Regions from separate parts of the Homo sapiens genome. Here region 2 is linked to region 1. The links come from fine-mapping of genetic effects on gene expression. Tissue or cell type: cerebellum. Region 1 holds a variant in brackets; the other region holds the start of a gene. All regions are shown on one strand. Distances are between the middles of the regions.

Region 1 (2,685 bases):
TGACCTCGTGATCCACCCGCCTCAGCCTCCCAAAGTGCTGGGATTACAGGCGTGAGCCACCGTGCCCCGGCCAAGAAGTTCTTTTAACATTTCTTGCAAGGCAGGTCTGCTCACTGCAAAGTCCCTCAGTTTTTATTTGTCTGAGAGAAGTACTTCTTTACTTTTGAAGGATAATTTTGCTGGATACAGGATTCTAGGTTGGTTTTTTTTTTTTCCTCTTGACACTTTAAACAGTTCACTCCACTCTGCTTGATTGCATGGTTTCTGAGATGTGGGATGTTAATTCATACCTTTGTTCCTCTATAGGTAAGGTGTTCTTTTTCCTCTGACATCTATCAATATTTTTGTCTCCCTTACCCAGCTCAGTCTTTTTAGTGAGCCTGTGCTCCTGGGCTATCAACTGCACAAGTGCTTCTCAGTTCCCCCCCAAGGTGAGACAGGAAGGCTTGATGGGACTGAGACTGGGTATTTCCCTTCCCGTAGATGGGTTAGGTTCTGGTAAAACCAAGGTGGTTAAGCTCTGATAAAATAGTTTCCCTTGAGGGTAGGTTTTTGTTTAGGAGAATAGAATGCTTAGGGCATATTTCAAATTGGTTACTTTTTTCTTCCTCCTGTGGGAAATTAGGGGAATTTTCTCCTGTCTATACCCCGAGAATCTCATGGGGCTGTAGGAGGTAAAGCTCATCCAGCTCATCCAAGTGTATGAGTCTCCCTTAGACTGGGTCTGCTTGGGGTTTTTAACTCTCAAGCTGTTCCACACTGAGCCTCCAGACATTTGTCAACTACAATTTAAGTTTTTATACCCCAGTACTGACTCCAGCAATAGTCTTCTGCTGCTGGGCATCTGCTCCATTAAACTGTAATTCTATCTTCCTGTCTACATTTTTGGAGGCAGGTGTTTGCCCTGTGACCTCAGTCTCTGATGGATCTAAGAAGAGTTGTTGATTTTCAGACTTTTTTCCTGTTGTGAAGACAGAAGTGACAAGCTCATTACATATTGAACTGGATAAGATTAAATCTTAAAATTCTTTTACCTTCTGATGTCCAAAGCTTTTCCTGTATAG[G/A]TGATCTCTTGATGTCCTGTTTATTAACAAGATAGTGGCCCTGATTTGCACTATTATTACATCTTTGCCAGCAGGGGTAGTTGATAGATGCAACAAAATTCAAAGGCCTGCTTGCCAAATAAACTTTCATGGGACTATTTGGGCAGATTCACAATGTTTAGTCCCTTTGACAGTTGAGGAAAAACTGCTGTCTCTTTGACCCTCTGCTACCCTCACCACACCACCAAAAAGGAGGCCTAGCACTATTTGGGCTCGTTGGGCATTAGACAGTATGTACCTCACTTGGGCATTCTGTCTGGTCCTTCATATCAGCTAACCTGCAAATCAGCATCCTTTGAGCGGGACTCTAAGTATCAGGTTGCATTGGAACCTGTCCAGCTCTCTGTGGCACGGTCCCAGGAACCCCTATAACCCTAATGACTCCTTTGAACACTGTGATAGATGTTATAGGTACATACAGGTTCAGGATTGTTATTTTCCTGGTGAATTATTCCTTTTGTTCCTATAAAATGACTTTTTTACTCCTATAAAGTGACCTTTTTACTCCTAGAAATGTTTTTGTTTTAAAGATAGATCTTATTTGTTGTAAAGACAATTAGGTCTTAAATGTTTTATAAAGATAATTAAGATCTTATTTTAATATAGCTATCCTGTCTAACCTTTGGTAAGCATATCTTTCATTGTGGCCTAGTCTTTCAAGGGTCTTGGTTTTATTTAGGGAGTTTTAGTTTTAGCTCCTAACCTTATATCAGCCCAGTGCCATGTTTTCTATTACCTGTGGATTTGAAAACCTGAGCCCCCTAGCCATTTGGCCAGTTTCCCTCTTCTGTCTCCCAGGTCTTCTTACCTACTGCTCTGCCTCTTAAGTGTCTCTTTCATTTCTGAACCTTGAGAATTTTTTCCTTACTTTGCATCTAGCTGTGTGGTATTTTCCCCCTAATTTATCCAGCATCTCTTTGTGTTTGTAGCAAGGGAAGGGTGTGTTTTGGGTCAAGGGCCTGTATAGTAGTGATGAAAGTTTGTTTTCCAACGCAGCATTCGCCATTTAGCTGGAATGGGAATTCTCTGACACTTTAAATCGTAGACTTTCAGCCTGGGCTGCATATTGGAATATGGGAAGCTTTAAGAAGTTTTGATACCTGGGTCCACTGTCAGAAATTTATTTAATTGGTTTGGAATGAGGCCTTGGCATTGGGACTTTTAAAAGTTCCCTGGGTAATTCTAATATGCAGCCAAGTCTGAGACTATTACTTAGACTTTAGCAGTAACCAGCTCTGTAATACACTGAGACCTAGGCTTAGGAGAAAGTTGTTTCATTGGGAAGCAGAGGCAGATATTTTTAGGATGTCTTGCTACTTCTCGTATCTTCAAAGTCCATTTGTGATTTCAAGTGGATTTGTATGTCAGCCTAGTGGATTAGGTAAAGTAATTTTCCTCTGTCTCTACTGTGTTTCCTCTTTGACTTCTAGGATTTAGAGGTTTTGAGTAGGATGAATGGGTCTCTAAATCAGACTTTTCTCTCTGTATCTACCCAAATATTTTTCCCATTAGAGAGGCTGGCTGTGACAGAAATGTTGGATATTTTGTCAGTTTAAGATATTTAAATGTAGTGTATTTACAG
Region 2 (2,685 bases), 71 kb after region 1:
GCAGTGGTGCAATTCTCTGCTCACCGCAACTTCTGCCTCCTGGGTTCAAGCGATTCTCTTGCCTCAGCTTCCCGAGTAACTGGGATTACAGGTGTGCGCCACTGCGCCAGGCTAATTTTTGTATTTTTAGTAGAGACAGGGTTTTGCCATGTTGGCCAGGCTGGTCTTGAACTCCTGACCTCAGGTGATCCGTCTGCCTCAGCCTCCCAAAGTGCTGGGATTACAGGCGTGAGCCACCATGCCCAGCCGAGTTCTGGGATCTTATGTAACCAAAACAAACCAAAACAAAGGGGTGCTCCCACCCTGCTCTTCAGTCTCACTGATGGCTTCTGGGTGCTCACTGTGCTGTCTGCTTGGTCCCTTTGACCCCCAGAGTGCTGCTGCTCAAGAGTGGGGAACTCTAGGGGGGATGAGGGGCCTAGGACCAACCACTGAGGTGACCTGCAGACACCCCGAGGGAGGTCTGGTGAAAGAGGAAGGATCTGATGCCCCAGATACCAATAAGATTGCAGTGCCCTGCCCCCAAACAAGTGAAGATTGAGCCATAGGAAACTGCAAAAGAGCTGTAAGTAGGTTTCCCTGTGATCAATACTTCATTTTTTTTCAAATATATGAAATTCTTTTAATTTTTTTTTGTGTCTTAAGTGTCTGTGTTAGTCCATTTTCTGTTGCTTATAACAGACTGCTTGAAACTGAGTTATTTATAAAGAAAAGAAATTTATTTCTTACAGTTCTGGAGGCTGGGAAGTCCAAGGTTTAGGGAATACATCTGGTAAGGGCCTTCTTGCTGTTGGGAACTCTGCAGTCTCCCAAGGGGGCACAGGTGAGGGAACCGAGCAAGCTAGCTTGTCTTTCTTCCTCTTGTTATAAAGTCACCAGTCCCATTCTCATAACTCATTAACCCATTAATCTACTAATCCATGATTGGTGATTCATGGATTAACAGATTACACTCATGACCCAATTACATCTTAAAGGCCCCATCACGCTACCACACTGGAGATGAAGTTTCAACATGAGTTTTGGAGAGGACAAATATTAAGCCATAGCAATGCTCTAATTTTGTTGAGGTCCTAAGTACATGCTGTACTGGTACAAGGATGGTCTGCCTTGTACTAGGCCCTGTGCTGGTTTTCCTGTCCTGCCACTTTGGCCTCCCTTCCCCCAAGCATGAAGCTTGAAGCCCTGTTCCTGCAATCTGGCAGAGGAGGCTTCTAGCTTATGGGGGAGATGGGTCAGACCCCGGCAGCTCTGACCAAGGCTGGTTGGCAGGGGAGTGTCACGGAGAGACAGAGCAGAAGTGAGTGGGGTAGGGCCAAGCCATTTCCAGCTGTGGGCTCAGGAAGGCTTGAAGGATAGTTGATAAATGAGTGATATCTGGAAGGACAGGAGAATTTCCGAGAGTGGAGGTGGAGCCCTCGTGTGGAGGAAACAGCCTGCACAAAGACAGGGGCAGGGGGGTTCGTGTGGCAGTTTTCCTGACCTGCCTTGCCCCTGGAGGCTACAGCCAGTTGTGTCCCTGGAGTAGAATGCTGACCCTCACCATTCCCAGCTCACCCCAAGGACCTCCCCACCCCATTGTGACACTACTTCCTGGACACCAGTGGAGCTCAAAGGTTCTGCTTCCAAGGGTCTGGCTGGGCCTGGATTGTGGTCAGGTGGGCCCTGGCTTTGGCTTGCGGTCCTGCCTACAGGGAGGCAGGGCCGGGAGGGTGTGGAGAGTAGAAATTATGATGACCCCTGGCAATTTTGCGGCCGCGTTCTCAGCACAGGTGTGGACAGGAGCCTGCCTGGGCCTGTTTGGCTGTGGGGAATCTGTGGAAGGAGCGGGCTGCCCTCCCAGAAAGCGTGAGTTCTCAGGTGTGGCGTCTGGCCATCTCCTGCGGCAGGTGGAGTGCTCCTCCTGGCTATGCTTCTCCCAGGCCTCAGTTACCTCTTTGGCACATTGAGAGCCAATTGCCTGGGGCCTGTCCACCTGGCAGAGGACCTTTGGGATGAGTAGAGGGAGTGAGTGCTCCAGGGTATTGGGGTATCAGGTGGTGCTGGGGGATGCTGAAGCGGTCCCTGCAGAGGGAGGCTGGTACAGATGGCTCTGGTCCAGAAGCCACATCTCTGAGAGGACAGCGGAGGCTCTCCCTCCCTGGAAAGTCTCCTTTATCCACCTCCACCCTCTCCAGCCTTACACACATACATCCTGTATTGGTTTCCTATTGCTGCTATAACAAATGCCCACACTTAGTGGCTTGAAACAGCAGAGACTTATTACCTTATGGTTTTGGAGGTCAGAAGAACAAATGGGCCTCAGCAGGCTAAGATCAAGGTCTCAGAAGGATTGCCTTCCTTTCTGGAGGCTCTAGGGCAGAGCTCATTTCCTTCCTTGCCTTTTCCAGCTTCTAGAGCCTCCTGCATTCCTTGGCTCTGGGACCCCTTGCATCTTCAAAGCCACCGACGGCTGCCCAAATCTTTATCACGCTGCATTTCTTTGGGTCTTATGCATTTAAGGATCCTGGGATTAATGGGACCTACCTGACAATCCAGGATAATCTATTTTAAAGTCAGCTAAGTAGTAACCTTAACTTCATCTGTAACTTTAACCCCCCTTGCCATGTAAGGAAACATATTTACGAGTTCTGAGGATTAGGCATAGATCTCTCCGGGGGGCGCTTATGCAGCCTCCCCCACCTC

Evidence for each region. PIP is the estimated chance that this variant, and not a neighbour inherited with it, causes the effect.
Region 2: SLC22A14 starts here. The variant in region 1 is fine-mapped to the expression of SLC22A14 in cerebellum (GTEx, PIP 0.95).

What each region holds. Positions count from the first base shown.
Region 1 is chr3:38,209,851-38,212,535 of GRCh38, forward strand. The region is part of intron 4 of OXSR1 (oxidative stress responsive kinase 1); the gene reads left to right. Among named protein-coding and RNA genes, the nearest start is that of OXSR1, 46 kb to the left of the region's middle. RefSeq lists a silencer at 481-590. The variant G/A (reference allele first, on the strand shown) is at 1,065.
Region 2 is chr3:38,280,682-38,283,366 of GRCh38, forward strand. It overlaps SLC22A14 (solute carrier family 22 member 14), which reads left to right and starts at 1,613. Exons shown (of 11, transcript NM_001320033.2): 1 at 1,613-1,658.